7 linked regions of the Homo sapiens genome follow. The protein of the gene in region 1 purifies or fractionates together with the protein of each later gene. This does not show direct contact. Each region holds a gene or a part of one and is shown in the gene's direction. Other genes may lie near its edges.

The links.
Region 2: the proteins of IDS (region 1) and CERCAM purify together in Homo sapiens (affinity purification with mass spectrometry; 3 studies listed by BioGRID and IntAct, with this or other methods). This does not show direct contact.
Region 3: the proteins of IDS (region 1) and FKBP14 purify together in Homo sapiens (affinity purification with mass spectrometry; 3 studies listed by BioGRID and IntAct, with this or other methods). This does not show direct contact.
Region 4: the proteins of IDS (region 1) and AP3M1 purify together in Homo sapiens (affinity purification with mass spectrometry; 2 studies listed by BioGRID and IntAct, with this or other methods). This does not show direct contact.
Region 5: the proteins of IDS (region 1) and P3H3 purify together in Homo sapiens (affinity purification with mass spectrometry; 3 studies listed by BioGRID and IntAct, with this or other methods). This does not show direct contact.
Region 6: the proteins of IDS (region 1) and LOXL2 purify together in Homo sapiens (affinity purification with mass spectrometry; 2 studies listed by BioGRID and IntAct, with this or other methods). This does not show direct contact.
Region 7: the proteins of IDS (region 1) and CUL1 purify together in Homo sapiens (affinity purification with mass spectrometry; 3 studies listed by BioGRID and IntAct, with this or other methods). This does not show direct contact.

Annotation. Positions count from the first base shown.
Region 1 is NC_000023.11:149,476,488-149,478,897, reverse strand, and holds the end of IDS (iduronate 2-sulfatase isoform a preproprotein), read left to right. Parts: 3' UTR 1-1,910; downstream 1,911-2,410. UniProt on the Homo sapiens protein: Lysosomal enzyme involved in the degradation pathway of dermatan sulfate and heparan sulfate.
Region 2 is NC_000009.12:128,423,857-128,427,356, forward strand, and holds part of CERCAM (inactive glycosyltransferase 25 family member 3 isoform a precursor), read left to right. Parts: intron 1-281; coding exon 282-416; intron 417-553; coding exon 554-758; intron 759-3,500. UniProt on the Homo sapiens protein: Probable cell adhesion protein involved in leukocyte transmigration across the blood-brain barrier. Does not express any beta-galactosyltransferase activity in vitro.
Region 3 is NC_000007.14:30,016,703-30,020,202, reverse strand, and holds part of FKBP14 (peptidyl-prolyl cis-trans isomerase FKBP14 precursor), read left to right. Parts: intron 1-1,079; coding exon 1,080-1,207; intron 1,208-3,500. UniProt on the Homo sapiens protein: PPIase which accelerates the folding of proteins during protein synthesis. Has a preference for substrates containing 4-hydroxylproline modifications, including type III collagen. May also target type VI and type X collagens.
Region 4 is NC_000010.11:74,140,829-74,144,328, reverse strand, and holds part of AP3M1 (AP-3 complex subunit mu-1), read left to right. Parts: intron 1-3,500. UniProt on the Homo sapiens protein: Part of the AP-3 complex, an adaptor-related complex which is not clathrin-associated. The complex is associated with the Golgi region as well as more peripheral structures.
Region 5 is NC_000012.12:6,826,941-6,831,206, forward strand, and holds the start of P3H3 (prolyl 3-hydroxylase 3 precursor), read left to right. Parts: upstream 1-1,466; 5' UTR 1,467-1,500; coding exon 1,501-1,998; intron 1,999-2,918; coding exon 2,919-3,071; intron 3,072-3,412; coding exon 3,413-3,614; intron 3,615-3,698; coding exon 3,699-3,830; intron 3,831-4,266. Other genes in the region: GPR162 (probable G-protein coupled receptor 162), read left to right, coding at 1-264. UniProt on the Homo sapiens protein: Part of a complex composed of PLOD1, P3H3 and P3H4 that catalyzes hydroxylation of lysine residues in collagen alpha chains and is required for normal assembly and cross-linkling of collagen fibrils.
Region 6 is NC_000008.11:23,296,397-23,299,758, reverse strand, and holds the end of LOXL2 (lysyl oxidase homolog 2 precursor), read left to right. Parts: intron 1-811; coding exon 812-923; intron 924-1,636; coding exon 1,637-1,716; 3' UTR 1,717-2,862; downstream 2,863-3,362. UniProt on the Homo sapiens protein: Mediates the post-translational oxidative deamination of lysine residues on target proteins leading to the formation of deaminated lysine (allysine).
Region 7 is NC_000007.14:148,750,903-148,754,402, forward strand, and holds part of CUL1 (cullin-1), read left to right. Parts: intron 1-3,073; coding exon 3,074-3,248; intron 3,249-3,500. UniProt on the Homo sapiens protein: Core component of multiple cullin-RING-based SCF (SKP1-CUL1-F-box protein) E3 ubiquitin-protein ligase complexes, which mediate the ubiquitination of proteins involved in cell cycle progression, signal transduction and transcription.

The DNA of each region.
Region 1 (2,410 bases):
TCACCTTTTAAAATAATCAAACATATTTATCTTTTCCTGTGTGATAGGTTTTTTTCTGTATCTTTTCCTGTTAAACACACAGACCCCTCCCCAATCTGGACATTGAATAAATATTCATTTTCCTTTGCATTGTTTGGGGTTTGGTTTTATGCTTACTGTGTCTCTCCACCCCATTATCAGAGTAATATATGCTCATTGCATAAAATCTGGAACATGTGAAAACTGGAGATGAAAAGAAGCCCAGCATTTGAGACATACCCACTGCTGACATTTGTATATTTCCTTTCATTCTTTTACCTGCCTAAAGACATATATGCAGATATGGACATATTTAGCTTTACATACATGCAGACTACCACATATAATCTATATCTTGTTTTTTTGATCTAACACAATGTTAGCTTGGTTTTTTATGTCATTGACAGTTCTTGATTAACAGCTGTAATGGCTGCACAGCCCTGCTTCATTAATTTTTTTTTTTGGACTGAAATGTATGTACCACGTTCCGCTTATCCATTCATCCACCAGTGACCACTTGGGTCATTTCTACCTTTTGGCCATTGCAATAATGTTGCTGTCAACAAGGATGTACAAATATCTGTTCGAGTCCCTGCTCTTAATTGTTTTGGGTATACACCCAACCTACATTAATCTTTAATCACTTAAGATGTTGGGGTTTGTGCTGGGAGGTAACCAAGTGACTCTGGAGCAGCCTCACCCTAGCTACAGAGGGAAACTGACTCTTCCCTCTCTGCCCAATCTTTTGCCGCCTGTCAGGTTCCCAAGCTGTCCATACCTTACTGTGTGAAGCGCTTTGGGTATAAACTCCCAAATAGAGGCTCAGCCCCTTTTCCTTTCCCAAGTCCATCCTGCAGGTTATAGCTCTTCAGAGGAATCTCTTGAATTCTGGCCTGGGATCTGGGATTAAAGTAGAACCCAGGGTGTCCCTTGGGGCCTTAGGCATAGCCCGTTGTGGTGGAACCTGCCATCAGCCCCACTGCACTCAGTGGTCCCCTGGTACTTCAGGACAGTTTCTCTCTTCTGCACATGAGAACTTCAAGCAGAGAGGACTGTCAGTTGTTGCCTTCACATCACCAATCGTTTGGCCATAATGGCCAAGAGCCCTCACTGCTCTTGGGTCTTGCCTTTCCACATGTTACTGAAAGCTCCCGTTGGTGTCCCTGTCCACTAACTCACCTGATGGGACAGATGCCACTTTCCTCTGAGTGTCTGATAAAACACAGTCTGTTGTGGGGAGCCCACGCTCAAGGGTTTTCTTTGGGATCAGAGTTTCCCGGCTATTACTCCATGCCCTGCCTGACATCACTGTCATGTATGGTGCTAATCACCAAAGGATGCCCTTGTTTGATTCTGGATTCTAGGTGATAGTCCTTATCCTCTGATGGGGGAAGAGTTTGGGTGGGAGAGAACAAACCGACAAGTTGGTTCCAGATGAGGTGGCTGGGAGCCAACCCTCAGGTACTTGGCTCTGAGTAATGTGACGGCCCAGGCAAGAGGGCTCCCACTGCCAATGAGGAACAAAAGCTCAAGGTCTAGTAGTGTATTCAGCACATGCTAGGAAACAAGAGTTGGGACGTGGACAAGGAGAGGAGCAAAGGCCAGGGGTTAACTGCTTTTGGTTTTTCCTCTATAAAAGTCAGGGACTATGATTTATATGGGTGAGAAGGTTTGGAGTAGGACTGAAGCTGCCATTTACAAACCCCTTGCCCTAATTTATTGTAGTTTTGGGTGTGTTTCTGAAAGAACCTTTTGCAGGTGATTTTTATTCAGTACTCATTAACTTACAGCTTTTATGAATTCACATCTTCTACACTATTGAAAAACATAAGTTTGTATTGTGTTAAGTGCAGCATGAGTTATTATATGAATAAATCACATTAAATTTGCCATTATCGTGTGTGCAATTCTTGCTGCTGGTTTGGGACCGCTTGGTGCTGCCTTAAAATAAAAGGAGCCATTTAACAGAGCTTGATACCGTGGTACAGGTGTGCCCCCTTAAAGTATCCAACCTGTTCCTCCCCATGTGAGGGCCAAGGCAGCTGTGGTGTGGGTTTTATTAGGGAGTTGAATTCTTGAGGGTAGATGGTGAGTTGCACTTGACCATAGACACACTTTTCTGGGCAGTGGTATGTCTCTCAGCTTGCCCTGCAGTTACAGTACAGAGACTCCCCAGAAAGAAAGAGGAAGTGGGCTGACCAATTAGGTAGGCTTAGGGAAACCATATATGCAATAGCAACAAGGTAAAGGAAGCAAATTAGTGGGTTCTTGGGGTTCCAACTGGAAATTTGCCTGTTTAGTGGTCTTGGCTTAGTGTCTTCATGAGCCTTAGTTTATCTTTTTCTACCTATCCTACTGGTTTCGACTAAAAATTCGGAAGGCAGTGCTTCTT
Region 2 (3,500 bases), on another chromosome or scaffold:
AGAGCTCAGAGTAGGTGTTTGGATCCATTTTCTAAGCCAGATCCCAGATAAAGGTCTTAGATCAGTAACTCAGGTATAATCTCTGGACCCAGTCCCTGAGTCAGTGCCCCAGACTAGAGCCTTGGTCCAGAAACAGATGTACTGAGTTTGTGAGACCTCTGTAAGAGCATTCCCACTGGATCCTAGGAGCCACGCTGGGTCTCTGGCAGGACCACTCAGTGAACTCCTTGGGGGGCTGCAGCCCAGGCAGGGCTGGAGCCTGTGACGTCCCCTCCTCAAAGTTTGCAGACACAGACAACATTCTGACCAACAATCAGACTCTGCGGCTTCTCATGGGGCAGGGGCTTCCAGTGGTGGCCCCAATGCTGGACTCCCAGACCTACTACTCCAACTTCTGGTGTGGGATCACCCCCCAGGTGAGGCCGGGATGGGGGCCTTGGGTGGACTGAGGTCCTGGAAGGAGGGACGTGGAGAGCAGAGAGCCTGAGGCCTTGGGGTCTGTGGGCAGGGGCAGGGGAGCCCTCTCACAGCCCAAAGCATCCCTTTTCCCCAGGGCTACTACCGCCGCACAGCCGAGTACTTCCCCACCAAGAACCGCCAGCGCCGGGGCTGCTTCCGTGTCCCCATGGTCCACTCCACCTTCCTTGCATCCCTGCGGGCTGAAGGGGCAGACCAGCTTGCTTTCTACCCGCCACATCCCAACTACACTTGGCCTTTCGACGACATCATCGTCTTCGCCTATGCCTGCCAGGCTGCTGGTGAGGACCAGCCCTCCTTTAGCATTCCTTGGAGGCCTCTGCACATTTGCACATGCTATTCCAGCTGCTTACCATGCCCTTCCCTACTCTGCATTTCATCCTGTTAACCCATGAGTTACAACTTTGGGTCATGAGTTTTCTTTTCTCTCTCTTTTTTTTTTTTTTTGGTGTGATCTCGGCTCACTGCAAACTCTGCCTCCCGGGTTCAAATGATTTCCTGCCTCAGCTTCCCGAGTAGCTGGGATTACAGGCACCCGCCACCACACCCAGCTAATTTTTGTATTTTTAGTAGAGACGGGGTTTTGCCATGTTGGTCAGGCTGGTCTCAAAACTCCTGAGCTCAGGTGATCCACCCGCCTCGGCCTCCCAAAGTACTGGCATTACAGGTGTGAGCCACCCGCCCAGCCAGTGGTTACTTTTAAGATGAAAGGTTTTTTGTTGTTGTTGTTGTTGTTGTTTTTGGGACAGAGTCTCACTCTGTCGCCCAGGCTGGAGTGCAGTGGCCGATCTTGGCTCACTGCAAGCTCCGCCTCCCGGGTTCAAGCCATTCTCCTGCCTCAGCCTCCCGAGTAGCTGGGACTACAGGCGCCCACCACCACGCCCGGCTAATTTTTGTATTTGTAGTAGAGATGGGGTTTCACCGTGTTAACCAGGATGGTCTCGATCTCCTGACCTCGTGATCTGCCCGCCTCGGCCTCCCAAAGTGCTGGGATTACAGGCGTGAGCCACCGCGCCCAGCCAAGATGAAAGTTACTAGAAAGAGTTTGGGTATGGCCAGGCAAGGTGACTCAGACCCTAATCTCAAAGTCTTGGGAAGCTGAGGCTGGAGGGGAAATCACTTGAGCTCAGGAGTTCGAGACCAGCCTGGACAACATAGCAAGACCTCATCTCTTTTCTGCCCTTTTTTTTTTTTTGAGATGGAGTTTTGCTCTTGTTGCCCAGGCTGGAGTGCAATGGCGTGATCTTGGCTCACTGCAACCTCTGCCTTCCGGGTTCAAGCAGTTCTCCTGCCTCAGCCTCCCGAGTAGCTGGGATTACAGGCATGCACTGCCACGCCTGGGTAATTTTGTGTTTTTAGTAGAGACGGGGTTTCTCCGTGTTGGTCAGCCTCGTCTCGAACTCCTGACCTCAGGTGATCTGCCCGCCTCAGCCTCCCAAAGTGCTGAGATTACAGGCATGGGCCACTGAGCCCAGCCCAGCCTTTTTTTTTTTTTTTTTTTTTTGAGACGGAGTCTTGCTCTGTGGCTCCCAGGCTAGAGTGCAGTGGCACAATCTCAGCTCACTACAGTGTTGACCTCCCCCACCTCAGCCTCCCACGTAGCTGGGACCACAGGTGCACACCACCATGCCCAGCTAATTTTTGTATTTTTTGTAGAGATGGGGTTTTGCCGTGTTGCCCAGGCTGGTCTTGAACTCCTGGGCTCAAGTGATCTGCCCCCGCAGCCTCCCAAAGTGCTACAATTACAGGCGTGAGCCACCGCCCCCGGCTGCGAGATCCCATCTCTACAAAAAAATTTAAAAATTAACTTGGCGTGTTGGCCCACGCCTGTAGTCCCAGCTTCCTGGGAGGCTGAGGCAGGAGGATCGCTTGAGCCCAGGAGGTAGAGACTGCAGTAAACTGTGATCATGCCACTGTACTCCACCTTGGGCAACACAAGATGAGACCCTGTCTGAAAAAAAACAGAGAGTAAGAAAGTGTTTGGGTTTGGATGGAATAAATCCAGTCCTGGCCAGGTGCGGTGGCTCACGCCTGTAATCTAAGCACTTTGGGAGGCCGAGGCAGGTGGATCACGAGGTCAAGAGATTGAGACCATCTTAAGACGGTGAAACCCCGTCTCTACTAAAAATACGAAAAATTAGCCAGGCATGGTGGCGGGTGCCTATAGTCCCAGCTACTCGGGAGGCTGAGGCAGGAGAATGGTGTGAACGCAGGAGGCAGAGCTTGCAGTGAGCCGAGATCGCGCCACTGCACTCCAGCCTGGGCGACAGAGCGAGACTCTGTCTTAAAAAAAAAAAAAAATCCAGTCCTGAGGATGAGAGGGAGGGGTGGAGACACTGATGTTGGAGTGAAGCTCTTGAGAAGGCTGCAGAGAATATGTAATTCCGACCCTGAAGACTATCTGGTGCATGGAGAAGAACTTTGCAGGTGCTCAGGGTAAATTAGAGGTGACGATTTAATCAAGTAATCAGTGGCAGCCGGTAAGGAGGATGTTGTAATTCTTTGTTTTGTGCTGGAGAAGTCTGCAGTGTGCAGACATGCAAGAAGAAATCTTACCAAGTGCAAAAAGTGAGTGAAGGTGAAACAATTGGAGGGGAAAACACAAGAGGAAACAAAAGCATTCTGTTATTTTTAATTTGCTAGCCCTACTTCAAGCGACAGCCGTTGTTAATTGGTCAATGGTTTGAAGGAATTCAGTCTCTAACAGCCAGATACTACATCCCGGCTCTGGGCCAGGCTCTGTGCTCAATGCTGGGAATAGGGTTAGCTTTTATTTGTTTTTTGTTTGTTTTTTTTTAAGACAGAGCTTTGTTCTGTCGCCTAGGCTGGAGTGCAGTGGCGCGATTTTGGCTCACTGCAACCTCTGCCTCCCGGGTTCAAGTGATTCTCCTGCCTCAGCCTCCTAAGTAGATGGGATTACGGGCGGCCACCACCACAGCCGGTTAATTTTTGTATTTTTAGTAGAGATGGGGTTTCACCATGTTGGCCAGGCTGGTCTTGAACTCCTGACCTCAAATGATCTG
Region 3 (3,500 bases), on another chromosome or scaffold:
GCACACTTTATAAGTCTTCTCTTTGGAATTTATGAATGTTCTTTCATGGAAATATGTGGGATGGGGGGAGGATGACTAAGAAATATTTAACATGTTTACACAGACCTGTATGTTAAATATAGTTATAAGGAAACAAGTTTGAGAAAAACAATTGTCCATACTCCACAGATGGGTGTGTTTGTTTGTTTGTTTGTTTGTTTCAGGTTCCTGGGATTTTAACAAAGCTCTTTTCACTTTTAAAGATTTTTAATTTCCCTTCTCAGAAATTCATTTTAATTTCTCCCCTCCCATGAAATGTCTTCAACATATATATAATGTTCTATATCAGAGGTAGTGTTTCCTAACTTTCTGAAATTGTTAAACCTTCCTGCATTATTTTTAAAGCCTGTGAGAAAATTATACCTCAATAACATGTATTGAGAGTTTACTATTTGTCAAGTTTAATGCTAAGTATTTTGCATGGATTTTTCTCCCTTTATCCTCCCAACAGACTCCTGAGGAGGAAATTTATTATCTGCATTTTATAGATGAGGAAATTGAGGCTTAGAGATGGGCAAATGTAAACTTCAGCCTCAGACAGTGTGACACCAGAGCTTACTCAATTATATGGGTAGAAATGCCTTCTAGTGGTAGAAATGGCAATACTGTATGTATTTCTAGGTCAGGACTTTCTGACCAAAAAGTTAGTTTATTACTTTTAATATACTTAACTCCGAATTATCTAAAACCCTTCAAGTCCTTCTTGACATATAATATGTAATATATTAATTATATTAGAAATGTAATACCTAAGCCATTAGGTACATCTCTATGTATGTATATGCATTGTGTGTATGTGTATTTACATTTTAATTGCTAAGCCAAAGATAGAATGCTTTTGCTCTGCTAGTGTATATTATTTCTTCTTTTACTCTATTCTATTCGAGTAAAATATAATATACATAATTTTCATCATATATGACAATCTTAGGAAGGCTCTTTAATTCAGTTAAAAAAAATACTTTGTCCATTACCATAAATTTTCTATTATTAAAACTTTTGGCTCTTTTAAAACTTTCTGCCTTCTTTCCTCACGTCAGGTAAAATTCCCCCAGAAAGTACACTGATATTTAATATTGATCTCCTGGAGATTCGAAATGGACCAAGATCCCATGAATCATTCCAAGAAATGGATCTTAATGATGACTGGAAACTCTCTAAAGATGAGGTGACCTTTCCTTCTTCCTACTCCTCTTTCTACTTTTCTTTGGTTGTTTGGGGTTTTGTTTTGTTTTGTTTTTGTAACTCACTTTTTAAATGAATATGTGTATATTTCAAATCTACTTTTATTTAGGTAACATTTATTTATAAGTTTTCTTAAAATACTGATGCTTTGAAAGTGGACTTTTTCATAGTGAATCACTGTTTTGGAGAGAAATATATTAAGACTTAAAAAGCACCATTCAATCTTTTGCTTTTTTCTTCCCAATGCTTAGGGTTCACTGTATCTTATGCTTACCCTTGGGTCTTTGAAAGAACAATTTTGCCAAGACAGTTTCCATCTGGAGTTACTGTATAAGAAGCTAGCTGTCCTGAGAAATATCTCATGTGGACAGTTTCTGTTAAAACTGTAGACTGGCTGTTAAATACATCTTGTAGTGTTTTCCTGGCAATTAACAGCAAGCAACTTACATGCTCTGTTTTGTTCAGGTTGCCCCAGAGAAAAGAGACCCCAGCCTGGGTTTTACACAGCAGGGCTCCAGCCCCATCAAAATCTGAGCCTTTGGGTAAAGAGAAAGGAAGAAGAGGCTTCTCCTTATAATTCGGCCATTGCTACACATACCTGTCTTAGTCTGGCTGCTGCGGGGAAAGAAGTGGAGGGAGATATTTATTCCTGTTTTTTATCTACTCACACTCCATTCTGTCCTGACTGGTCAGATATCAAGTCCCTTTCTATGCTTTGATCAAATTCATTCTAATGGCCAGGAAATGATTAAGTCTTGAATAAGCCAAATTGTTACGAACCAGGGGTTCATGATCCACAGCCACTAAATTTATAACACCTCATAGTATTACCAGTCACATGCCTTTTTCTTCCATCCAAGATAAATTTTAATTCCCTTTCATTAAATAATTTTGAATATATAACACAGTCACATGGTTCAAAACAAAAATCTATTTATTTATTTATTTATTTATTTATTTATTTATTTATTTATTTATTTCCTGAGAGGGAGTCTTGCTCTGTTGCCCAGCCTGGAGTGCAGTGGCAAAATCTCGGCTCACTGCAACCTCTGCCTCCTGGGTTCAAGCAATTCTGCCTCAGCCTCCCAAGTAGCTGCACCATCATGCCTGGCTGATTTTTGTATTTTTAGTAGAGATGGGGTTTCACCATATTGGCCAGGCTGGTCTCAAACTCCTGACCTCGTGATCTGCCCACCTCGGCCTTCCAAAGTGCTGGGATTACAGACGTGAACCACTGTGCCCAGCAGAAAGATATTTATTTAAAAGTCTTAGCTGGGTGAGGTGGCTCACACTTGTAATCCTACCACTTTGGAAGGCTGAGGCAGGAAGATTGCTTGAGGCTGAGACTTCAAGACCAACCTGGCCAACATAGGAAGACTTTATCTCTATTATTTACTGTTTTTTTTTTTTTTAGACGGAATCTCACTCTGTTGCCAGGCTGGATTGCAGTGGTGCGATCTCAGCTCACTGCAGCCTCTGTGTCCCGGGTTCAAGCGATTCTCCTGCCTCGGCCTGCCAGGTAGCTGGGACTACAGGTGCACGCCACCATACCCAGCTAATTGTCGTATTTTTAATAGAGACAGGGTTTCACCATGTTGGCCAGGATGGTTTCAAGCTCCTGACTTTGTGATCCGCCTGCCTTGGCCTCCCAAAGTGCTGGGATTACAGGTGTGAGCTACCGCATCCGGCCTATTATTTACATATTTTTAAAAGTCTTTCTCCTACCTACATCCTCTTCTATTCTATTATCCCCACATCCAGTTTTATTAATTACTTTTTTCTTTCTTTCTGTTTTTTTTTTTGTAGAGATGAGGTCTCGCTATGTACAAGCATGCACCATTGCACCCGGCTTAGTTTTATTAGTTTCTAATATATCCTTTCAGTGTTTCTTTCTGCAAATCCAAATACATAGTCTTATTTCCCCCTTTCTTACACAAAAAGAAGCAAACTATACATGCTGTTTTGTCGTTTTGCTTTATTCACACAATATATCCTAGAAATACATTCTACATTAATCCATAGAGTTTAATGGATTAATGGATCTCTCCCCCACCCCTTTTTTTAACAACTGCATTAAATCACTTTAACTTAAAAATAAATATATACTATATGTGTACTTCTTGAAAGCTGGGGGAGAGAGGATTTGAAATTGCTGGTCTAAACAGAAGGAAGAGAGGTGATATAATTAAAACTGAAAATATAGGCTGATTTTCATTGTGGTGAATCTTGTGGGAAATTGAAAACAATATTTATATTTTTAAATATCTGAATGAAAT
Region 4 (3,500 bases), on another chromosome or scaffold:
GACGCAGCTGCACTCCAGCCTGGGCAACAGAGCGAGACCCTATCTCAAAAAAAAAATAAAAATAAAAAAGCCGGGCATGGTGGCTCACGCCTGTAATCCCAGCACTTTGGGAGGCCGAGGCGGGTGGATCATGAGGTCCGGAGATCGAGACCATCCTGGCTAACATGGTGAAACCCCATCTCTACTAAAAATACAAAAAATTAGCCAGGCGTGGTGGCGGGCTCCTGTAGTCCCAGCTACTCGGGAGGCTGAGGCAGGAGAATGGTGTGAACCTGGGAGGCGGAGCTTGCAGTGAGCAGAGATCACGCCATTGCGCTCCTGTCTGGGAGACAGAGCAAGACTCCGTCTCAAAAAAAAATTAATTAAAATTTCAAAAAAATTAAAACTTCAGTATTGGGTACATTAGCCACATTTCAAGTGCTCAATAGCCATGGGTGTAGTGGCTACCATATTAGCACAGATAAAGGACATTTCCATCATTGCAGAAAGCCCTGTTGGACAGTGCTGTATTAGAACGTGTTCCTAATAATTAGTCTCTACAAGGCAGATAAGAGCAGGAGCTCAGAATTCAGCTGGATTTAGGTTTGAATCCTAGCTTACTGCGTGATCTTAGGTAATTGACCTAACTTTTCTGAGATGACATTGTCTTATCTGTAAAATGGGGATAATAGTAGTATTTATGGTGTAGCATTGTGAAAATAAGATGAGATAAAGTGTCTAGCATAGTGTCTGGCCCATAATAAGTACTCAATACATTTTAGATAGTATTAATTCATTTATTATTCATTATCTTTAATGAATAAAACACTTTGAATGGGGACTGAGTACAGTAGCTTCACTTTGGGAGGCGAAGGCAGGCGGATCACTTGAGGCCAACATGGTGAAACCCCATTTCTACTAAAAACAGAAAAACTAGCTGGGCATGGTGGTGCACACCTGTAATCCCAGCTACTGAGGAGGCTGAGGCACGAGAATTGCTTGCCCATGGGAGACGGAGGTTGCAGTCAGCAGAGATCACACCACTGCACTCCAGCCTGGGTGACAGTGGGAGACTCTGCTCAAACAAACAAACAAGCTTTGTTCCCAAGTAGCTGGGATTACAGGCGCACGCCACCATGCCCGGCTAATTTTTGTATTTTTAGTAGAGACAGGGTTTTGCCATGCTGGCCAGGATGGCCTTGAACTCCTGACCTCAGGTAATCCACCAGTCTTGGCCTCCCAAAGTGCTGGGATTACAGGCGTGAGCCACTGTGCCTGGCCAAAAATAACCACATTGAATGGGGCCAAAAGATTAATTTTTGCAAAGAATGCTGTGTTCCATATGTGACTCACCTGAAGTGCCCAAATCTGAGTCTGCTTGTGGATTACAGTGCTCCACTTGAAGTCATACATTATATATTTCAGATGCTGATTTTCTTCCAAGAAAAAGGTGTAATAATAAAAATTTAGTTGCAGATCTTATGGTTGGATATTCCTGTTTCATTTAAAAAATGAAAATGAAAAGTTTATCAGCTAAAGATTATAGTTAAAATCAGCAGGTTCTATATAGCAAGTCTAAGTATTCTAATGGCACTTATATTAATACCCAGACAGAAATATAAGACACAAAGCAAGCCTACTAAGCAAAGCATCTGACTAGATAAAGTAGAAAAATTTGGCAGGTTCCAACCCTGAGGTGTCAGAGTTTATTGCTAATAACTCAAGTTGATTTCTTGGCTAAACAGAGGGCTTTAAACAAAGAAATTTTTTGGTTCTAATTAAACAGGAACCCTAAACTGTTAACAGTATTCATACTTTATTAATACAATAATTACTAAAACATATCTTAGTAACTAGTATTATTGATAACTACTGAACATGTGTCGAATGGGAAGAGGAGATCATCACCACATATTCTTTAAATGTCAGCCGCTTTCATAAAAGAAAGGGTTGATGTTGTTTTCTGTCAACAGAATCAAATGAATCAATTCTGGAAAGTCTTCCTTTCCTCTTTGGAATTTATCTTCATTCATAGAAACTGTATTCATAGGTCTTAAATTCTTTCTTCTTAGACTATAGTACTATTACTTGGAATGATTGAGCCACTAGACTAAACACCTGATACTGGTGCTTATACACGTAAAAGATAGGAACAAGGTAAGATAATTAGACATTTTTCCATTGTCCCCCATATTGCAGGGACAATAAACTTCTTATAGGAAGCATAACTAACACTCAGAAAGTATGCAAATCACAATGTAAAGCCTAATGAGTTATCATAGAAGGAACACAGCTTGTAAACATCATGCAGGTCAAGAAATAAAACATTGGCCAGGTGCGGTGTCTCACTCCTGTAATCCTAGCACTTTGGGAGGCTGAGGCAGGCGGATCACGAGGTCAGGAGTTCAAGACCAGCCTGGCCAACATAGTGAAACCTCGTCTCTATTAAAAATACAAAAAAAAAAAAAAACTAGCCAGGTGTGGCGGTGTGTGCCTGTAATCCCAGCTACTAGGGAGGCTGAGGCAGGAGAATCTCGTGAACTTGGGAGGCAGAGGTTTCAGTGAGCCGAGATAACACCATTGCACTCCAGCCTGGGCGACAGTGTAAGACTCCATCTCAAAAAAAAAAAAAAAAGGAAAATAAAAAAGAAATAAAACATTACCAGCACTCTAGGAGATCATCCCCATGGCCCTCCACTCTCCATAAAGGAAACCATTTGATTTAACGTAGATTAGTTTTGCCTGTTCTACAACTTCATATAAATGGAATCATACTGTGTATATTCTTTTGCATCTGGCTTCATTTATTCAACATCGTATTTGTAAGATTCGTTTGTATGTATATATTCTTTGAGTAAATGTCTTTTCAAATCCTTTGCCCATTTTTTAATTGGCTTGTTTATTTATTTATTTTTTATGTTTTAGAGGCAAGGTCTCCCTCTGTCACCCAGGCTAGGGTGCAGTGGTGGGATCATAGTTGACTGCAGCCTCAAACTCCTGGACTCAGGCAATCCTCCCACCTCAGCCTCCCAAGTAGCAGGGACTACAGGTATGAGCCACTATGCCTGGCTAGTTTTTAAATTTTTTTATAGAGACGGGGTCTCAAACTCCTGGGCTCAAGCAATCCTCCCTCCTCAGCCTCCCAGAGTGCTAGGATTACAGTTGTGAGTCACCACACCTGGCCCTTCTTATTATTGAGTAAAAGTTCTTTATATTTTCCGGATAGGGGTCCCTTTAAGATATATGGTTTCAAATATTTACTATCATTTTGTGAATTTTTGCTTTCTTGATAATGTCCTTTGAAGCACTAAGTTTTAAATTTGATGGACTCTGGGTTATCTATTTTTTATTTTTCTTGTCTGTACTTTTGGTATCGTATCTTAAAAAACATTGTCTAATCCAGAGTCAAAATCTATGCATATTTTTTCTAAGAGTTTTATCATTTTGGCTTTTCCAATTAGGTCTTTGATACATTTTGTGTTGCTTTTTGTATCCAATTTCATTCTTTTGTATGTGGAAAT
Region 5 (4,266 bases), on another chromosome or scaffold:
CGGGAGGAGATCACCACCTTCATCGATGAGACACCTCTGCCTTCTCCGACTGCCTCACCAGGGCACTCTCCTCGTCGGCCCCGGCCACTGGGCCTCTCACCCCGCCGACTCTCCCTTGGGTCCCCTGAGAGCAGAGCCGTTGGACTTCCTTTGGGACTAAGCGCAGGGAGACGCTGCTCCCTGACGGGGGGTGAAGAAAGTGCAAGGGCTTGGGGAGGATCCTGGGGCCCAGGCAACCCCATCTTTCCCCAGCTGACCCTGTGAGCCCAAGCAGGCCTGCTGAACTCAGAGGAGAAAGCCTGAGTGAGTAACACCTCATTCTGGCCGAGAGTAGGGCAGCTGCCTCCAGACTCTGGGGAGACGGGCGCTAGATTTGGGGCTCAGAAGGCCCTGCTCTCTCCCATCCAAGTGACCAGATGCCCTACTCAGCTTCCATCACCCCTAGCAATATGTATTAAAGTCTGAAGTGTTGCCATGGAAACCTCAGTGTCCAGTGTACTGCGGTGGAAAGGGGCTTGGAGGGTGGAGTGGCTCACAGGGGACACGACAGAGCAGGGGCAGCAGACAGAGGCACAGAAGGACACATGGAGAAATGATCACATGCTCCACCAGGCAGCCTCGCACAGGGAAGGCTGGGAGGAGCATATCCTGCTGGGGGCGGGGCTTGAGGACACACATCTTCGTTGGTTGGGGTATGAAGGATCTCTGTTCAGATTTGTTGAGGTGGTTTTAGAGCGTGGCTCCAGCCCCAGTGCCCAACTCTCCTTCTAACCTCAAATCCATGCAGGGGCTCACTTTATGGGCAGGAAAGGTTTTGGGGCTGATGCAGTGTCCCGGGCCTGGACACCTCCTCCTTGCTGCATTTTAAAGCTCTTTCTCCAAAGGAGTGCAGGGGTGGATGAGTGTGTGTGTGGGCGGGGGTGGGAGTGCAGGGGTGGATGAGTGTGTGTGTGGGGGAGTGCAGGGGTGGATGAGTGTGTGGGGGGGGTGGGAGTGCAGGGGTGGATGAGTGTGGGGGGGTGGGAGTGCAGGGGTGGATGAGTGTGGGGGGGTGGGGGGGGGCGAGGGGGGGATCGGCGTCCACACTCCTTTTTCTGGACCCAGAAGCGTGTGTGTGGAGGGAACACAGCCCCAGTAGTTACCCCCAGACCTCAGGGGCTGAAGTCACCGCTGGGGCTGAAGTCATCCTTCATGGATGCCCAGGCCTGCTCCAGTTCCCGCCTTTTGCCCTCCTCCTCCCAGTTTCTCCCTCTTATTCCACACTAGACCAGCTTTGTCCACTCAGCACTCTTCTCTCTCCATCTTTTCACATGGGCCTCTCCCACCATCGGGTCTCAGCCCCATCTTCTCTCTCTCTCTCTCTCTCGGCCTCCCTCATTATTTCTCCCTCTCCCTCCGCCTCTCCATCTCTCCTTCCTCCCCCTCCCTCCCCTTCCCCCCTTTCCTCTCCCTCCCTCTCGGCTCCCGCATTTCCCCTCGGCTGCCGGCGGCTCCGACATCATGCTCCGGCTCCTCCGGCCGCTGCTGCTACTGCTGCTGCTGCCTCCCCCGGGGTCCCCTGAGCCCCCCGGCCTGACCCAGCTGTCCCCGGGGGCGCCCCCGCAGGCCCCCGACTTGCTCTACGCTGACGGGCTGCGCGCCTACGCGGCCGGGGCTTGGGCGCCGGCCGTGGCGCTGCTGCGGGAGGCGCTGCGGAGCCAGGCGGCGCTGGGCCGGGTGCGGCTGGATTGCGGGGCGAGCTGCGCGGCCGATCCGGGCGCCGCGCTCCCCGCCGTGCTTCTCGGGGCCCCGGAGCCCGACTCCGGGCCGGGACCCACGCAGGGGTCCTGGGAGCGACAGCTTCTCCGTGCAGCGCTCCGCCGCGCAGACTGCCTGACCCAGTGCGCAGCACGGAGGCTGGGCCCCGGGGGCGCGGCGCGGCTTCGCGTGGGGAGCGCGCTCCGGGACGCCTTCCGCCGTCGGGAGCCCTACAACTACCTGCAGAGGGCCTATTACCAGGTGGGGAGCGGGCCGGGCAGCTCCGAGGGTCCCAGCCCTCACCACGACGCTGTCCTACTTTGCGTTGCCCAGGAGTAGGCGGAATGCTGTTGCCCGGGCCCCGCACGGGGCTGGGGAGCGTACCGCGGGCCTCTGCGTAGGAGCTGGCTAAGCGACCGCGAGGACCTCTTGAGATCGCAGAGGAGCAGCCGAGGGGGAGTGCGAGCAGAATGGGAATGGGGCGGGGAGGTCGTGAGGTGGGACGGGAGCAGATCGAAGATGGAGGGACAGGGCCGCCTCTTCCTAGGAATGAAGCGGAGGCGGTGGGGGCGAAACCGGCTCTCGGACGGGAAGTGTGCGTGGGTGTGTGTGTGTGTCGGGGGTGGTGGTGAGTGTGAACCTTCGCTTGGGGCAGGAGGTAGCTTCGGAAAGGAAGGAGCAGACGGAGGCAAGGTTGGGGTCCTCCGAGGCCAGACCTCTGCGGGCGGGGAGGGGACAGCACGCCGCAGCCGCCGGTACCGCAGCAGTTGCCTACGTGGCTGGGGAAGCGGGGCGCCGGTTGTACTCACCTCAGCTCAGGGTCCTAGAGACCTGCGGGTTTTGCTGGTCGCTGAGGTCTCCCCCACTTCCCCACCTCACTTAAGCCATCACTTCCACCTGGTCTCCCAAATTGAGGTCCTGAAGTCCTGAGACCCATGTCCCACCCAACTCCGACGTCTTTAGATCCCCTTTCCCTCGGTGCCAGCCTTCTGAGAGTCCCAACGTTCTGGCCTCTAGGGGATCTGCAGTTCGGGCGGTGGGCGGTTCTGATTGGCCAGTCTTCCATGAGGCTCTGGGGCACCCAGAGTGTGTGTCTGGGGTAGGGTGGGGAGGCTGGCCAGGGGGCAGAGGTCTGCCCCCCGTCCCAGGGCTCTGATGCCCTCCTCCCTTCGCCTCCTCAGTTGAAGAAGCTGGATCTGGCAGCTGCGGCAGCACACACCTTCTTTGTAGCAAACCCCATGCACCTGCAGATGCGGGAGGACATGGCTAAGTACAGACGAATGTCGGGAGTTCGGCCCCAGAGCTTCCGGGACCTGGAGACGCCCCCACACTGGGTGAGAATCCCAGCACCACCCCTGTCTTGCCACCAGCCTTTTCCTGGCTGGATACACAGGCCTCACTAAACTGTGCGTTGTGCTGCTTGAGCATACAGATGGGGTAATGATCCTCAGCGACCCTGGCTGGGAGTCCTTCTCTAGGACTTCGTTTCCTTCCTGGATGATCACTGAAATCTGATGTTCTAACATTATGATTCTGAGGCCCACCCTTATTCTTCTCCACGGTGAAGAGGGACATGGAGTCCTTGCCCCAAATGAGACCAACACCCCTCTCCTCTCTACCTCCCAGTTTGGCAACCCCTGGATCTTAGGTGACTGACTGCTCCCTTCCCCAACAGGCAGCCTATGACACTGGCCTGGAGCTACTGGGGCGCCAGGAGGCAGGACTGGCACTGCCCAGGCTAGAGGAGGCTCTTCAGGGGAGCCTGGCCCAGATGGAGAGCTGCCGTGCTGACTGTGAGGGGCCTGAGGAGCAGCAGGGGGCTGAAGAAGAGGAGGATGGGGCTGCGAGCCAGGGGGGCCTCTATGAGGCCATTGCAGGTAAGGGTCCCGTGTGTGAGGGGGTGGGTCGGTGCCCAGGGAGGGGCATGAACAAGCTGAATGGCTTATGGGTTTCCTCTGCAGGACACTGGATTCAGGTCCTGCAGTGCCGGCAACGCTGTGTGGGGGAAACAGCCACACGCCCTGGTCGCAGCTTCCCTGTCCCAGACTTCCTTCCCAACCAGCTGAGGCGGCTACATGAGGCCCATGCTCAGGGTCAGTTGGGGAAGGGTGGAAACGGGGAGTGAAGATTTGCCTCTGCTGCTATCCTGAGCTCCATCTCTCTATCCCTCCCATCTGTCTCTGGATTTGTAGTTTCACTGTCAGGGCTGCATGGGAACCATCACTTCACAAGGACTCTAATTTGCCCTCCTTTGGCGCCTGTGACAAGCTCAGGAGATGGGCTTCCTTCTGCCTTGCTGCTTCTCACCTTCCTTTATTTTCCCCCCTCTTGCTCTTCTTTGAACTCTCCAGCTAAGGTATGTTTGCACCAGTGTTTGAAAGAACCGGCAGCTGAACTTGTCTGCCAGTGGGAAGGGGGCTCTTGGAGTTAGCTGTCTGGCCTCTGGAGACCACCTTCTCCAGCACTGCCTCTGCCCCAAGGATCAATGTGCTCTAAGTATTCATCCCCCAACCCCTGACCTTGTCGCTC
Region 6 (3,362 bases), on another chromosome or scaffold:
CCTGCTGTGGGTCGCAGCCCTTCCAAATGTGGCAGGACCCTCGAGGGAAGGCCTGTCATCTGTGTCCTCTGCCCCTCTGTTCACCACTGTTGTCTCTTCTCCCTCTCCCTCCCTTTCTCTTTTCTCCTCGGGTCCTCACCGTAAACCTCCCCTTTTCTGTTCCCTCACAGACACTCTCCCAGAATATGTCCTTCCTATTCCTGCTGTAGCTGGGGGGATGCGGATACAGGGGTGGGTGGAAGGATGGGGAGAGGGTGCAACTTCTCCAGCAGCCCCAGAGCCAGGCCCTCGGCCAGCAGAGCAGACAGGGACATGGATCCCCAAGTCCCACCTGTCACTTTACAGAGAGAGGAAGGGACATGTCCACAGTCACACGCCTGTGACGAGTGTCCCATCTCCAACGCCCAGGCAGCCCTCTTCCAGGTTCCCACACCGCCAGGTCCTCCCTGCACCCTTCTGCTTCTCTTCAGCATCTTCTTTTTGGGGCCTCCCCAGACCCCAACTTCTGCCTTCCCCAGAACTCCCAGGAGTGGGTGACCCCCTTCCGAAGGCCCACCCTGGGTAGAGGGGTGTGTGTTACACGGATATGGACAGAGGGCAGGGTTTCCCTCTTCCAGGCCATGCTTCCTCTGCTCCCTGACTCATCTCTTCCCCTCCCCAAGGACTTTGTTGAGACCCACAGACCCCCGTCTTGGGTCCCGGCACCTGCCACGCTCCCCTTCCCTGAGGTGCTGGTCTCTCAGAGCCCCAGGCCTGGGTGGAGGTGGCCGCAGAGGGAACAAGCAGCCTCCTCTGCCCTGCTTCTCCCTAGGTTGTTATTAACCCCAACTTCGAGGTTGCAGAATCCGATTACTCCAACAACATCATGAAATGCAGGAGCCGCTATGACGGCCACCGCATCTGGATGTACAACTGCCACATAGGTAAGGCCAGGCCGCCCCCACTCCAGGAAGCAGGCGGGAGCTGCCCTACTTTCTCAAGGACCCAGAGGCAGCTTCCTAATTTGGGTAAAGAGCTCGGGGAATGCAGCCAGCATCACATTTCCACATTCAGGACAGAAGCCACAGACACACAGGCCTGGATGGAGACTGAGTTTTTACAGCCAGCTCCGGCCACGGATAGAGGATGGTACAGGACCAGGCCAGCCCAGTGCAGACCCCAAGGCTTTTTAAGGGTTGGAGCTGAGGCCACTGGCTCATTATGTATGTGACCTCAAAAATGTGGGCATCAGCAATCTGTGGGCTCTGCCTATCAGGTTTTTCTGTCGAGAGCTGGAAGCTAGCAAACTACTGTTATTTCTAGTCTCCAATAAAGACACTTTTTTCCTTGGATGATAGGACTTGGGGAACAAAAGGGAAGGCAGAGCTTTTTCCTCTGCAGGAAAAGTCATGGGCCTCACTCTTGGCAAAAGGTTAAAATTAAAGGCGCTATATTTATTCACTCGTTCACTCAACTTTGACAGAGCACCTGCTATGTGCCCAGCCCTAGAGATGGCCAGTGCCTGGCACCTGTCCTTTTGAGGAGGGCACACACAGGTGGCCCCAGCAGCCCCTGAGGCCCACTCCCCTGGCTCAGGGTCAGGCAAGGCCCGAGCATCTCATTTGTCCACTCTCTCTACCCGATTCTCGCTCTTCAGGTGGTTCCTTCAGCGAAGAGACGGAAAAAAAGTTTGAGCACTTCAGCGGGCTCTTAAACAACCAGCTGTCCCCGCAGTAAAGAAGCCTGCGTGGTCAACTCCTGTCTTCAGGCCACACCACATCTTCCATGGGACTTCCCCCCAACAACTGAGTCTGAACGAATGCCACGTGCCCTCACCCAGCCCGGCCCCCACCCTGTCCAGACCCCTACAGCTGTGTCTAAGCTCAGGAGGAAAGGGACCCTCCCATCATTCATGGGGGGCTGCTACCTGACCCTTGGGGCCTGAGAAGGCCTTGCGGGGGTGGGGTTTGTCCACAGAGCTGCTGGAGCAGCACCAAGAGCCAGTCTTGACCGGGATGAGGCCCACAGACAGGTTGTCATCAGCTTGTCCCATTCAAGCCACCGAGCTCACCACAGACACAGTGGAGCCGCGCTCTTCTCCAGTGACACGTGGACAAATGCGGGCTCATCAGCCCCCCCAGAGAGGGTCAGGCCGAACCCCATTTCTCCTCCTCTTAGGTCATTTTCAGCAAACTTGAATATCTAGACCTCTCTTCCAATGAAACCCTCCAGTCTATTATAGTCACATAGATAATGGTGCCACGTGTTTTCTGATTTGGTGAGCTCAGACTTGGTGCTTCCCTATCCACAGCCCCCACCCCTTGTTTTTCAAGATACTATTATTATATTTTCACAGACTTTTGAAGCACAAATTTATTGGCATTTAATATTGGACATCTGGGCCCTTGGAAGTACAAATCTAAGGAAAAACCAACCCACTGTGTAAGTGACTCATCTTCCTGTTGTTCCAATTCTGTGGGTTTTTGATTCAACGGTGCTATAACCAGGGTCCTGGGTGACAGGGCGCTCACTGAGCACCATGTGTCATCACAGACACTTACACATACTTGAAACTTGGAATAAAAGAAAGATTTATGAAACGTGTCTGTGTTTCCTTTGACCCACAGCACCTGGGCCCTGAGCAGCAGGCTTCCTATGTTCAGTGGCCAGAAGCAGAGCTTCAGGTACATTCGTGGTTTTCTCCGGTGGACATGGGTCCTCAGATCCCCTCCAGCCCAGTGTGGCCACCAGGGCACCTCCTTCAATAGACTCCAAAAGGGGCAGCTCCTACCATCTGGGAGAAGCAATCTAAGGAGATCACAAAAAGTAACGGAACAGGAGTCATAATCTTTCTTGAACTCCTGTGGTTTTTACTGAAACTTGTCAGAAGGCATAGGAGTTGTGCGAGGGCTGGATGGGAAGTCTAGATTTAAACAACAGCCACCAGGCAGCTTATCAAAGCAAGAGGGCATCCGTTCACAGGACAGGGGCTCCCAGCAATTCCCAGTGGCAGTGGGGGGGTGGCTGGCCCATGCGACTCACCCAGACACAGGGGACTTCCCCTTGTGTCAACAGCATGCTAGGGCCCAGCAAACTAGAGGGTAGGTAGGACCACCTTGGCACCAACTCCACTCAAACCACAATTGAATGAGGGCGTCGGCACGCATTCAGATCTCACCTCTTGCCTTTGTTTACATTTATTTTGCAGGAACTGGCACTGACTGACAGGTAAGACCAGGACCAGCCCAGGGGTCCCAGAACTGTCCCACAGCACAGGCCAGAAGGCTGGATACCTGAACTGCCAAAGGAGTGTGGGCAGGTGCTACACAGCAGGTGCAACCCAGCTCCCAAAATTGGGCAGGCTGTGCACAGAGGCCCTGCAG
Region 7 (3,500 bases), on another chromosome or scaffold:
TGAGGCAGTAGCCTGCTATGATCATGTCTGTGAATAGCCACTGCTCTCCAGCCTGGGCAACATAGTGAGATCCTGTCTCTTTAAAAAAAAAAAAAAACAAAACAAAACTGTCTATGCCCTAGAAATGGATATTAAAACCATAATAAACCACAGTATGAATGCAAGGCCAAGGTTGTGGTCGATGAAAACTCATGCACTACAGGGTGCTGGATAGCCGCTTTGTAGCACTAAGTTGGCAACTCTTAATAAAGTTAAACCCACCACTTTGGGAGGCCAAACAGGAGGATTGCTTGAGCCCAAGAATTTTGGACCAGCCAGGGCAACATAGCAAGACCCCATCTCTACAAAAAATTGTTTAAAAGGGCCTGGCAAGGTGGCTCACATCTGTAATCCTAGCAACTTTGGGAGGTCGAGGCAGGTGGATTGCCTGAGGTCAGGAGTTCAAGACCAACCTGACCAATATGGTGAAACCCTGTCTCTACTAAAAATACAAAAATTAGCCAGGAATGGTGGCAGGCGCCCGTAATCACATCTACTCAGGAGAATCGCTTGATCCCGGGAGGCAGAGGTTGCAGTGAGCCGAGATTACATCACTGCACTACAGCCTGGGAGACAGAGTGAGACTCTGTCTCAAAAAAAAAAAAAAAAAAAACCTCTCTTGTCACTTTGTCACTTAGTATTTCTGTGCTCCAAGAAACTTGTACTCAAGGAGACCTGCTAGTTTTATTCTTTGCAGCTTTGTAAATACACAAAAAATAGGTATCTGCCAAAAGGACTATTAGCAAGGTCCACCACCAAGAGAGTTGATGAAGTATTGTAAATGTGCGTTACACAGTATATTACAGCTGCGGCTATGTCAGATACCATCAAAAACAAATGGCAGAGCAAATGTACATATTACAGTTTGTATAATTTAAAAATGTAGAACATGGCCAGACGCGGTGGCTCACGCCTGTAATCCCAGCAGTTTGGGAGGCCGAGGAGGCTGGATAGCCTGAAGTTGGGAGTTTGAGACCAGCCTGACCTACATGGAGAAACCTCATGTCTACTAAACATACAAAATTAGCCAGGCGTGGTGGCGCCTGCCTGTAACCACAGCTACTCGGGAGGCTGAGGCAGGAGAATCGCTTGAACCCAGGAGGTAGAGGTTGTGAGCTGAGATCACGCCATTGCACTCCAGTCTGGGCAACAAGAGTGAAACTCCATCTCAAAAAAAACAAAACAAAATGTAGAACATGTGAAATATATTTGATACACATTTATCCAGCAAAATATAAAAACATAGGAATGATATATACCAAATCATGGTGCTATTTGCTAGGGTAAGAGGAAGGAGTGGGATGAAAGAGGGAGAATATAGTGCTTCACTTATAACCTGTAATATTTTATTTTCTCAAAAGTTGAGGGAGGCTGTAGGTGGAATATGAGACAAGTGTGGGAATGCAGTAAGATCTATCAAAACTGGGTCATGAGTATACAGTAGTTGTTTATTGTAATCTGTGATTCTCTATACAATTGAAATAGTTAATAATTTTTCATTGTTTTAAAGTATAGTTCTTTGATTATTACCTAGATTGGTTATTTTATTAGGTTTGGGGGCATTAGTATATATTTATTTTACCTTTTAGATTTTCTGTGGTATATTTTGTTCATGTTTCCATAGAGATTCATTTTTTTAATTGCTTTAAATTACCTTAATTTATTAAAGATAGTTTAAGGTATTTCATCTTAATCTACAATTTTGAATTTATTTATTTATTTTTTGAGACAGAGTCTTGCTCTGTCGCCCAGGCTGGAGTGCAGTGGCATGATCTCAGCTCGCTGCAAGCTCCGCCTCCCGGGTTCATGCCATTCTCCTGCCTCAGCCTCCCGAGTAGCTGGGACTACAGGCGCCTGCCACCACGCCCGGCTAATTTTTTGTGTGTGTTTTTAGTAGAGATGGGGTTTCACCGTGTTAGCCAGGATGGTCTCAATCTCCTGACCTTGTGATCCACCTGTCTCGGCCTCCCAGAGTGCTGGGATTACAGGCGCGAGCCACCGCGCCCAGCCTGAATTCATTTTTTTGTGTGATCTTACTTAGAAAGGGCCGCTCCAGCCTGAGAACAGATAAGCGTTCACATATATATTCTTGGTTTTACTGTTTTAGCTTGTATATTTTAAATCTTAATCCATTTGTAATATATTTTGGAATATAACATGGAATATTTAGAAATATCTTGCCCTCATGCCATTTATTAGATAATCTATCTTTTACCCGTTGTCTTGAAGTATCTTTATATAGTAAATTCTTAATTATACCAGAATATTGTTTTGTTCTGTTTTGTTGATCTTTCTGAGTATAAGTATCTTTCCGTTCATTTTATTCAATTAATAATACATGCAGATAAGCTCATCATATTTAAAGGATACAACAGAACACGGTGGTTTTCTGCCCTGCCTGGCCCCATCTTCTCATTCTCTGCGCTCCCCCTGCAGATGCAGCTGTTTTGCAATCAGCTGTCTGTGCTGTGGTTTATACATCTCTCTCTTTCTCAGGAGTGTGTGGACACTGCTGCCGTTCACTGATAAGTTTTAGATGGCTATGACTATTGTAATATAAGGACTTGGCTCTCTGAGTCATTTTAAAATAAAGTTTGTGTTATTTCAATATTTAGAATCTGTGCCTCTGAAAAAGTTACAGCTGAGCATCATAATAGACAGTGCTTATTGTTAGCTTTTTGTTTTTCCTGGAGTCAGTAATTGCATTTTTCTTTTGGGACAGTTTTCCACAAGGTCAGTCACATCAGATAATCTAAAAGGTCCAGATTTTTTTATAGGCAACCTCCCTCCTGGAATGTTCCCTTCTCCACCTTGGCGGTGTTGCTCTCAAGGCCTACCAACAACCTTGTGAATGGGGCTTGTTGACTTTTAGCTTTATGGATAGTGTGAATGGGATCTTTGTTCCATTCTAGTTTTTAACAGGTTTTGGTTGATATATTGGGAATGCATTGGTAATGAAATATAAGAAAATATGTTTATGTTAATGACCGTTAACGTCTGTGATATATGTTGGTTTCCTTAACTTTTCTCCAAGTCATGTTTATAACTACTGTACTAGTGTTCACCAGTCAAACCAAGCACGAGGAGCTGGAGTTCCTCCTTCTAAGTCGAAAAAGGGGCAGACACCTGGAGGAGCTCAGTTTGTTGGCCTGGAATTATATAAACGACTTAAGGAATTTTTGAAGAATTACTTGACAAATCTTCTTAAGGTAAGATGTTTTATATATATACTGAGTATTCATAACAGGATATAAAAAAAGTGAAATAATGGTTCTAACTTGTTAAATCTTTCACTGTCATCTGTTACTGTTTTAGACACTAACGTAGGTGACAGTGTTTTGCTATTGCATAGTCTTTTACCTACTGTGAATATGAAATCACCATAAACTATATTCTAGGGTTTTGTTTTTTCGAGATGGAGATCTCACTATGTTGCCCAGGCTGGATTTTTGATCTCCTGG